Linked DNA regions of Homo sapiens. The protein of the gene in region 3 purifies or fractionates together with the protein of the main gene of each other region. This does not show direct contact. Each region holds a gene or a part of one and is shown on either strand. Other genes may lie near its edges.

The links.
Region 1: the proteins of RGS9 (region 3) and RBM25 purify together in Homo sapiens (affinity purification with mass spectrometry; 2 studies listed by BioGRID and IntAct, with this or other methods). This does not show direct contact.
Region 2: the proteins of RGS9 (region 3) and RGS7BP purify together in Homo sapiens (affinity purification with western blotting; 2 studies listed by BioGRID). This does not show direct contact.

Annotation. Positions count from the first base shown.
Region 1 is NC_000014.9:73,117,455-73,121,206, reverse strand, and holds part of RBM25 (RNA-binding protein 25), read right to left. Parts: intron 1,495-3,752; coding exon 1,402-1,494; 3' UTR 1-1,401. UniProt on the Homo sapiens protein: RNA-binding protein that acts as a regulator of alternative pre-mRNA splicing. Involved in apoptotic cell death through the regulation of the apoptotic factor BCL2L1 isoform expression.
Region 2 is NC_000005.10:64,607,008-64,610,759, forward strand, and holds part of RGS7BP (regulator of G-protein signaling 7-binding protein), read left to right. Parts: intron 1-2,153; coding exon 2,154-2,245; 3' UTR 2,246-3,752. UniProt on the Homo sapiens protein: Regulator of G protein-coupled receptor (GPCR) signaling. Regulatory subunit of the R7-Gbeta5 complexes that acts by controlling the subcellular location of the R7-Gbeta5 complexes.
Region 3 is NC_000017.11:65,135,427-65,139,178, reverse strand, and holds the start of RGS9 (regulator of G-protein signaling 9), read right to left. Parts: upstream 1,810-3,752; 5' UTR 1,639-1,809; coding exon 1,582-1,638; intron 1-1,581. UniProt on the Homo sapiens protein: Inhibits signal transduction by increasing the GTPase activity of G protein alpha subunits thereby driving them into their inactive GDP-bound form. Binds to GNAT1. Involved in phototransduction; key element in the recovery phase of visual transduction.

The DNA.
Region 1 (3,752 bases), on a different chromosome or scaffold from region 3:
AAAAAAAAAATCCAGTAATCCAAAGCTCACATTATGCTTTTTCTAACAGGCCAATCTTTACCTTTCTTTTAAATAAGTACTCAGACATGGGAACAGTTGCATCTAATTTGTGTGAAAAGCTGTTTAAAACTTCTTACGTTTTCAGGTAATTTTACTCCCTGGTGAAATTCTGATCTACAACGAAGAAAGCCCCAGGAATTTCTCTAAGCACATCATCAGTACATTTTTAAACACTAATGAGCCAAGGTAAAACAAGATATAAACCTTCTACAAGACAAAAATGAAAACAAATAGTTAGTGGTTGGTAACTGCCTTGAATGATTTACCTTTATCCTTAAATAACATGTAAACTTACAAATTGCCGAGCAGAATACCTATCATGTTTGTAAAACTCTCACTGTCTGTCAATTTGCCTAATTTTATTTCATTTTTTTGTTTTGTTTTAAAGGGGGTTTTCACTTACACTTTTTGGTATGATGAATTTTTTGTTAAATAAACAGATACAATAGAATTAAACTAAGGACCAATTAGTGCAAAAATGCATTAAATACAGCTCTCCAGGATTTTTAGGATATGCCTCATTTCTGAGCAATAAAATTAAAAGGAAAAATCACTATGATCCACATTCCTTTAAAAGAGAAGCTGAAGCAGCCATCTTATTAATAAGAAAACCCCATCCAGTTAGCAAACCACATTGCTCACGACACGAGAACACCATGCTCTGGGAAACTAATAACCTAATTATAACAGACATTTCAGGTTGGAACAGTACCACTTTTCCTTTACAATTCTATTCTTTAGTTGGGAAATGTTTTAAGGACCCCACCAAAGCAAATTAGGGAAAAGAAAGACTTTTACACATACATTCACAAACACATTCATACAGAAATACAGTAGGAATGGATTGTCTGCTAATTTTTGCATTCCAATTTTAAACTCCATGCCTTCACAAGGGCTTGCCATTTCTGATCAAAAGAGAGTGGGGGTGGTAATAGTTTATGACTGGTGTTTTCAATTAAAATTGTTCATGTTGGTTCCTATACAGTACATTTCAATATTAAGTGCAATTCTGCAAAATAATTGGGGAGTCGTTTTAATATTTACAAGAAACAAATCAGCAGAACAAGATTATATCAGATAGGCTGTGTACAGTAGCTGCGGCTTATAAAACATACCAGTAATTTGTACCTGGTGAGTATAAAGAGAACCAAGGATTCAGATGACTTTACAACCAAGGGAGTACACAGGGCAACAACAAATTAGAGGACCAAAAAATTCACATTTTCTACAAAAAAAAAAAATTACAGATCTCACAATGTCTTCAAAGACAAAGAAAAATTCAAAGTCCTTAAAAGGGTGGCAAAGAAGAAATCTGAAATGGAACTCTAAATATAAAAAGTTTTACTTCACAAGACCAATTTTCTTGGCTTCTGTTTCATATATCAATAATCTCCACATTTTGACTATAAAAACTTCTGCTTCTTCATCAAGTACCTAAAGAGGAAACAAAACAGCAACACATGTAAGAGAAGCAATCATCAACATCTGCCAAAAACAGTGGCCAGTATAAAAAAGTTTTTCATCCACTGACAATAAGCACTTATTACTTAAATGCTAGTTAAGATTTTAAGGTTGTTTTAGTGGCCGGGTGTGGTGGCTCACGCCTGTAATCCCAGCATTTTGGGAGGCCGAAGCGAGCGGATCACAAGGTCAGGAGATCAAGACCATCCTGACTAACATGGTGAAACCCCATCTCTACTAAAAATACAAAAAACTAGCTGGGCATGGCAGCGTGCGCCTGTATTCCCAGCTGCTGGGGAGGCTGAGGCAGGAGAATGACGTGAACCCAGGAGGCGGAGCTTGCCAAGATCGCGCCACTGCACTCCAGCCTGAGCAACAGAGCAAGACTCCATCTCAAAAAAGAAAAACAAAAAAAACAAAAAAGTTTTAAGGTTGTTTTGAGGGGATACATGAGATTCTGTATTGTTATTACATAGTTGTATATTTAGTTCTTCTTAAATTACTACGTTCTTTATAATACGTATTTGTTTTCCTTAGGAAGTAGTTTTGCTTTCAGTAAAATGACTTAAAGAAAATTTGTCCAGTGTGAGAAATGTATTATTAATAAATAGTAAATGGACCGGGCACAGTGGCTCACACCTATAATCCCAGCACTTTGGGAGGCTGAGGCAGGTGGATCACCAGAGGTCAAGAGTTCAAGACCAGCCTGGCCAACATGACGAAACCCCATCTCTACTAAAAATACAAAAATTAGCTGGGCATGGTGGCCGGCACCTGTAATCCCAGCTACTCGGGAGGCTGAGGTAGGAGAATCGCTTGAACCTGGGAGGCGGAGGTTGCAGTGAGCCAAGATCATGCCACTGCACTCCAGCCTGGTCAACAAGAGCAAAACTCCGTCTCTAAATAAATAAATAAATAGTAAATGTAAATTAACAACGACAACAAAAAAAAATCATTCAAAATTCCATGGCTTACTAAACACAAAGAGTACCATATTTTTGTGATCCACCTTTTATTCTTTTATTTTACCTTTACAGATACTGCAATTATACATGTCTGACAAAACTACTTCCCAAGGAAACCATACGCTTTTCATAAAGAACACAGTAATTTAAGAAGAACTAAATAATATACAATTACATAATAACAATACAGAATTTCATTTATCTCCAAAAACACAACCTCACAAACTTTTTTTTTTTTTTTCTGGAGACAGGATCTCTCTTGTCACCCAGCCTGGAGTACAGTGGCATGATCATGGTGCACTACAGCCTTGACCTCCCAGGCTCAAGTGATACTCCCACATCAGCCTCACCAGTAGCTAGGACTACAGGTGTGCACCACTACTCCTGGCTACATTTTTGTGCTTTTTAGTAGAGACAGGGTCTCACTATGTTGCCCAGGCTGGTCTCAAACTCCTGGGCTCAAGCAATCTGCGCACCTTGGCCTTCCAAAGTGCTGGGATTACAGGTTTGAGCTGCTGTGCACAGCCCAACCGTACCATCTTAACTAGCATTTATTGTGTATGTGACACTAAAGTGAACATTAAATGAGAATATAAGTATTTAGTACAGTGTCCAGAATACAGTAAACACAATAAGCAAATACAATCATCACGGGGCACACATGACTACTGAGTAACAAGTCTTCTTCCAGTGGTGGATGAGGAAATTGTCTTCCTCTCTACTTATGAGTTATAGGGTCCTTGTGTCCCCATCACTATTCCTGCCATCATCCCATACACACATCTGCCCCTCTACATTATGGCTGCTATGAGGTGAAATGGCCTACTCTGCTCCCTTCTGAAGGGGGCAGCTATGACTGTGCTCCAGAAATGTGGTCTAGTGTTGCCAGGTCTTCATAGAGGAAGTTTGGGGTAGGAATTTAGAGTACTCAATCTCTAGTCAGACTACATTGGTTCAAATTCTCTAGTCAGGCTACATAGGTTCAAATTGCACTGCTGCCTCTTACTAGCGATAGGTCCTTGGTTGGGTTACTTAACCTGAGCCTCAGTTCCCTCACCTCTAAAGTGGAGGCGATGTAGCTACACACCATAGCAGTAGGTACTAAGTGGGAATTAAAAGAGTTGGTATGTAGTTAAGTGCTCTGACAACTGACTGGTATATAACAAGTGCTTAATAAATACCTGGGAAGAGACTGGGCACAGTGGCTCACGCCTGTAATCCCAGCACTTTGGGAGGCCTAGGTAGGCAGATCACCTGAGGTCAGGA
Region 2 (3,752 bases), on a different chromosome or scaffold from region 3:
GCCCAGCGGAGGCACCTGTTTTCTTCTCTGGCTTGGACTTGCTACTCTAGCTCTATCTAAATATATAACATAGTGCAACATTCCAAGGAACACTGTCAACCTTGGTGGGTGATACTAATTTACAAATAAGTATGACACATTAGAGCCTTTGGGAAGGGGAGGAGAAGCCCAGGCACTTAGATGACACTTTATGTAAGAGGACTGGAAAGCCAGAATCTATTTTTGCTCTCAACAGTTTCCTGAGCATTGTAAACCAAAAAGTATCTGAGACACATCTCAGTCAATGTAGAAATTTATTTTGCCAAGATTAAGTACATGCCCATGACACAGCCTCAGGAGGTCCTGAGAACATGTGCCCAAGGTGGTCAGGCTACAACTTGGTTTTATACGTGTAGGAAGACATAAGACATTAATCGATACACATAAGATGTATATCGGTTTGGTCTGGAAAAGCGGGACAACTGGAAGCGGGGCTTCTAAGTCATAGGCAGATTCAAAGATTTTCTGATTGGCAGTTGCTTGAGTTATTATCTAAAGACCGGGAAGCAACAGAAAGAAATGTCTGGGTTATTATGATAGGGGGTTATGGAGACCAAGGTTTTATCATGTAGATGAAGCCTCCAGGTAGCAGACTTCAGCAAAAATAGATTATAAATGCTTCTTATCGGACGGAAGGAGTCTGTTTTATCAGTCTTAAGGTCTCTGTGTTGATGTTAACTCCAGTCAGCTTTGTCTAAATTCCAAAAGGGAGGAGGATATAATGAAGAATGTTCAACTGCCTCTTCCCAACATGGCCTGAACTAGCTTTTCAAGTTAACTTTGGAATGCAGTTGGCTGAGAGGAGGGGGCCATTCAGGTGGTTGGGGGGTTTACAATTTTATTTTTGGTTTACAGCATCTAGGCTCAGTAATCAGGAAAAACAAGCCCTCTTCTACGAATCAGTTCGATTGAGGTGGGGCACATTCTTCACTTTAGCTATCTCTTCATCTAACTTCTGCTTCTGTGCCCTTTGCCAAGCTTCCATCCCCTTTAAGGTTAGGACAGGGAAAGGAGGGAACTCCTTAGCCCCACTCTGGAAGGAAAGTGCAACTAGTCTTGGCGGAGCTTAGGTACGTAACAGTCACCAATGCCAACCATCTTGTTGCCCTTAGCTCCAGTCTGACCATGTCATAACACTGCCCCAGTTGGAAAATTCTAGATTATCCCCTCATAGTCCTTTGCCTCTGGGACCCACATTGACAAGTTCTGCTTCAACAGGATATTTCTACCCACCTTCTCTTTTGCTTTGCACTTTTTTAAATAACCCAACTCTTTAAACCAGATTAGATTTACTGGTTTATTTCTACCTCTACCTGTCATCATCCTAAAAATTTCAAACCAAAACTTATTAATTCAACAGCTGGCAGTCTTCTATGAATGCCCTTGTGTACAGAAATCTATAGAAAGTGCTGGGGAAAGACTCAATAGGAAATAGTTGAAACATGAAGAGACATGAAGTCAATGAATGAAGGTGTGATAATGATCCAATGTAAAGGAAAATAGTTAATAATAGCTATTTTAACTAAACGCTTCCTCTATGCTAGACAGTAAGCTACTCACCATAGCTAAATGTTTTTCATAGATTATTTCATGTAATCCTCACCTGGGCTAAGTTTTATTAAACTCTATTTTACAGACAGCTTAGCAAGCTTCAGTTACATGTTCAAAGTCACAGAACTGGCAAATAGCAGAGGCAGGTTTAGAAAAGAAGCCAACCTTACTCATAAGCATGGGTTCTTTCAAATAAGGTATATACGTTTCCCAACTGAAAGATTGCCTCTAAGCAGTTTCAATTCAATTTTAAGCAGTGGTTCTCAGCCTTGAACTCTTTTGCCTCCCACCCCAGGGAACATTTGGTCATAGCTGGGGATATACTTGGTTGCCACAAATTGTCATACAGTGCTACTGGCATCTGATGAATTGAGGGATGCTACTAAACATTCCACAGTGCTCAGGACAGTACCCCACAACCAAGAATCATCTGGTCCAAAATGCCAACAGTGCTGAGGTTGAGAAATCCTGATTAGGAGGATGGTGGATTTTTAAAGCCACTTCCTAAAAAGCAGGTTGTTGTGTCTATACCTCACTTATGTGCACATTATGTCCCATCACAGATGACAGCAGCCTTCTGAATCTAACTCCCTACCCCCTGGTGAGAAGACGGAAGAGAAGGTTCTTTGGGCTGTGTTGTCTCATCTCAAGCTAGGTGGCTCCTCCTGGAAACCCACTGAGAACATCTGAAAAAAAATCACAAAACCCGAGGACCTCCAGACAGCTGAACCACACAGTTATTGGTTTTTGACTATGTTTTCTATGCTTCCTTATTACTTTTATCTGCCTCCCCCTGCCCTTTTAAATGATTTTACACTTGAAAGCAGCTGCCGTCAAGAAAAAAAAGAACAGATTCAAAAACCAGGCTGTTTTTAAAAGGGAATTTTAAAGCTGACATTGTGCATGTCTGCTCCAAACCACGCCATGACAGATGCAAGAATTATGATTTTTAAATTATTTAAAGGTTTTTTAAATGTATTATACAGAGGAAAAATATTTCACATATAATAGTATATCTATAGCTCTTGCTGATCTCATGTTAAAATTTATCGTATATGAAAGAAGTCTTTAAACATAGAAATCTATTTAAAACTGAAAAACTGTGTTCAAAAATCCAATCTATCAATATCATTAGAAATAATATTATAAGCAAACATATACCACCTCACCTATTGCTTTCTCTGCACTCATTTACATTTAGTCTTCCATTCTGTCAGAATCTAAGAGCTTCAACATAAAAGTATCTTAATTTATAAAGCAACAAAAACCACATATGAAAAGTACTAAAATTTTGTAAATACACAATAATCCTAATACCTTCGTACAAATGCATATGGGCAACTAATTTCTTTTTGATCCAATGATGTCTTTTTCAGCTTCTTGGAGAATGAAGTAATCCAGTTAGGAAATGGTGTAGTAACATATACAATTGCCCTCAAATGTAAAATCAAATATTATTACATTTTGTTCTAATTGAAATCTGAAGCATGGTGTCTGCACATCAGCATAGTGTTAAATCTTATAGGGCATGCTGGAATTAGCTCAGATTATAAAAATATTTAACATTTTACATTGTTAATAAAGTTTTTTAGTTAAGCTAAGCTTGTCTCATTTTAGATGACTATGCAGATAAGATTTTTCCAACGTGTACTTGGTGTCTTGTCTTATGCTTAGACTCTTGAAAGCAGGACACATTAAGCAATACTATATTTTAGAAAGGAGGAAGCCACATGCTTTGTTTTTCTGCTCACAGCTTTGTTGTGATCTTCCTTCACTAAACTTGTAACATGGTACAAATTTTGTTATACCGTCTCCTGTTCTTCCTTTGGCCCATTTCCCAGACAGAATTTCCCATGGGTTGAGAGATCAAGTCTTTGCACTTTTTTTCTTGTTTTCCATAGTCTGAAAAACCTTCAAGTCAGACAGGAGGCACCAGTGTCCAGTACAATAGAAGGATGAGCTAGATGCCGATAAGTGGTTTATCCAAGACACATCTTTAGTCCCAACCCTGTTCTTTACCAATACTTATGTGCACAGGCATTTATATGTATACCAATATTTTTACCTAAAAACTAAATATATTAAGGCCTTTTGCTTTAGTGAAGATGAACTACTGTAATAATTATTGTATTAGGTTGAATTATATGAAATTTCCTATATGT
Region 3 (3,752 bases):
TGGGGTAGAGGAAGGGGAAGACAGGGTGGAGGAAGAGGACCTGGGGTGGAGGAGGGAAAGGTGGGGTGGAGGGGGGAGAGCTGGGGTGGAGGAGGGGAGCTGGAATGGAGGAGGGAGAGGTTAGGGTGGAGGAAGGGAGACTAAGGTGGAGGAGGGAGAGTTTGGGTGGAGGAGGGGATGCTGGGGTGGAGGAGGGGATGCTGGGGTGGAGGAGGGGTGGCTGGGGAGGAGGAGGGAAGCCTGGGGTGGAGGAGAGAAACTAGAGACCAAGACACTAGTCAGAAGACCAAGGTAAGGAGAGGAGAATCTACCAGAGAAGAGTCATGATGGAAAAGAATGCCAGAGATTCAATAAACAAACTGAATTTATCTCTTGACAATTACCCTCTGAGCCCCCAAGCCAGAGCTGTCCTGCCTGGGAGGAGACAGTCCTAGGATAAATCCTGGAAGATGATGTGTGGCTTTGAGATAGCCGACTTAGGCAGTTTCTTCTGCTTTTAGTAACTGGTATCTGCAATACAGGCTCTCAGGGTTCTTTCTGAGTGAGACAACATTCAGCCTGTCTGCTTTACAGATGATACCCACACCTCTGCTACCCGGAAGATGAGCACGAGCATCTTGAAACAGGTGGACCAAATGCGACCGTCTCGGGGTCCCCAGGACTGTCCAGGTTTTAGCATTGAAAGTCCTGGGCAAATCAGGACAGCGGTCACTGACTATACAAATTTGCTGAGCTCCAGGGGCTCAGGGAGAGCTCAGCTTGTCACAAAACATTCAACTAATTCTACTCAACAAGATAAGCCTAAGAAGATGGACACTACGCTGTGAAAAGTGGCTACGGGTGGGAGGAAGGACAAAGATGTGACCCGGGACCTAATCCTCTGTAGATCTCATCGGACAGTGATTATACCAGAAGCTCAGAACTAAATGAACCACTTTGTCCCCAAACACATCACCCCACAGGTGCATTCCACCTCCCACATGTCCATCCTGTGTGCACACCCTGTGCCCGGTCACTTTGTCTGGGAAAGCATTCGCAAGGGAAGCGAAAAGGTTGGGACTTCTGCCGCCAGCGCAGACAGCAGGAGATGCACAGATAGACACACTCAAATGAGGGCTCTCAGGGCATTGTAAATGGGGTGGCCCTTTATCCTACAAATCACCCCGTTTTCATGGTCTATGTGTACACACACACACACTTTAAAATAGTGCAGTTTGGGATCAGAAAAAAAAGGCAAAAATGGCAATGTCACATCTGGTCGTCTTACAACAATATCAGCAGGCTGTCTCAAATCTGCCACAGCCTGAACTGAACCTGCCTCTCCCGAGTAACAGGTTGTTTTCACCTCCCGCAGACCATCAGCGCTGGCTTCAGATTCTCCACTACAGGCAGGGCACACGAAAACCTAATTATTATAGCCATCAATATCGACACACACAGCAAAGAAGTCACTTAATAAAATCGAGCAGCACAAATCGACCCAAAGGGGTGCTCTCCACTCCTGCCCCTCTTGTCCTCGGACGCTTCGCAGATGCGGTCCCCCGCCCTCCTCCCAGGGTCCAGGTGAGGGGCCAGGGTTACCTTTTGGAGAAATGCCATCCTCGGCCTGTACTGCTGGCCTTGGTGTCGGATTGTCATCCTGGCCCCTGGATGGATTCACAGCCAGAGCACCAGTGGGAGACAAGAGGAGAAGCCCCCCAAGTTCGAAAGGCAGCCTGGCTCGCCCCAGCCCTGGGCGTCGACGGGGAGGCGGCTGGGCGGGGAGGGCGCGGGCCGGGCCCCCCTGACTCTCACTAGGCGCCGCTGACTTGGAAAGCAGCTGGAATCCGCGCCAGCCAATCCGCGAGCGGCGCCGCGGGCTCATTAGCATGCGCTGCGCGGGCGCCCACCTGCCGCCAGGGGGCGCTATCCGGCCCCCGCCGGGACCCCGCGGAGCAGCAGGTGAGACCCGCAGGGCAGGGCCCCGGGAGGAGAAGGAGGAGGAGGACCTGGCGGGAGGAGGAGGAGGACCTAGCGGGAGGAGGAGGAGGACCTGTCGAGAGCAGCGAGCCTTTTAACTTGGGGCGGAGTTATGCACAGAAGTGACACAAAGAGCCCTCACTAATACAGCGCGGTGGAAAATACGGACTTTCCCATCCCAGCTCTGCCACTAACCAGCCGGCAGCCTTGGGCAAGTTCCTTACAATCTCTAAGAATCAATGTCCTTCACTCAAAAGTAAAAATTGAAAAATGGGATCATAATATCGACCAGAAAAGGTTGCTATACCATTTTAATGAGGAGATGTGTAACACAGTGCTTGGCCCTCAATAAATGCTTAGAAAAAAAAATTAGAGGTGGCGATTTAATGACCCAATAGCAGAGGAATTGCTAAGATGTGGGTTTAAAAAGAGAGAGCAAAGAAGTGAAGAAGGAAGAGAGGAAGGTTGTAGTCCTCACCGGGCTAGCTGTCTGGATGAAGCGAATTATATTTTACTTCTCTGATTCTTAGTGTTTCGGTTAGTTGGTTGTTGGGTTTGTTGTTGTTTAACTTTTTTTTTGAGACAGGGTCTTGCTCTGTCACCCAGGCTGGAGTGCAGTGGCGTAATCATGGCTCATTGCAGCTACAACCTCCCAGGCTCAAACAATCCTCCCACCTCAGCCTCCCCAGTAGCTGGGGCTACAGGCACGTGCCACCACACCCCGCTAATTTTTACAAAAATTGTTTGTGGAGAGGGAGTTTCACAAACTCCTGGGCTCAATCGATCTACCCACCTCGGCCTCCCAAAGTGCTGGAATTACAGGAGTGAGCCACTGCAGCTGGCTGGTTTGCTTGTTTTAATAGACTTTATTTCTTAGAGCAGTTTTAGGTTCACAGCACAATTGAGCGGAAGGTATAGGGACACGTCATATATCCCCTCTCCCCACGCACGCACAGCGTCCCCCATGATCAACATCCTCCACTGGAGTGGCCCATTTGTTACAATTGATGAACCTACCTTGACAGCTCATTATGTTAGCGTTTTCATCTTGAGAAAAATGCAAGGATGAAGCCTCTAAGTTATTATCAAGAGCCTTTCTGCTTTGTTATATAAAGCACTTTCTCTTAAACATACTCGATGGTTATTGAGTGTAGCAGATAAAATGTTTAAGTTGGAAGAAAACAAGAAGGCCTTTACCTTAGGAAGGCACAGTCAACCAATGTCCCTTTAAAGCAGTGGTTCTTGGCTGGGTGTGATGGCTCACGCCTATAATTCCAGCACTTTGGGAGGCCCAAGCGGGTGAATCACTTGAAGTCAGGAGTTCAAGACCAGCCTGGCCAACATGGCAAAACCCTATCTCTATTAAAAATACAGAAATCAATCAGCATGGTGGAGCAACCTGTAATCCCAGCTACTCAGGAGGCTGAGGCACAAGAATCACTTGAACCCAGAGGCTGCAGTGAGCCAAGACTGAGCCACTGCATTCCAGCCTGGGTGACAGAGTGAGACTCTGTCTCAAAAAAAAAAAAAAGCAGTGGTTCTTATCCATTCTCTCGGGTGATATTTACCTGTAAGAATCTGATGAAAGCTATGGACACTCAGGAACACACACACATGCACATGTACACAACACTGACTGAAGTTTGCAAACAATTTCAAGAGGTTCATGCTTGGGCCTCTCTTGTGCCTTTTCAGGAATCCCTGATTCAGAGCCTCCAATTTAGAGGACGCTGGACCCTGCAGAGATCCATCCAAGCAGAAGACCAGAGATCCTGCCAAGCAAATTGAACCAC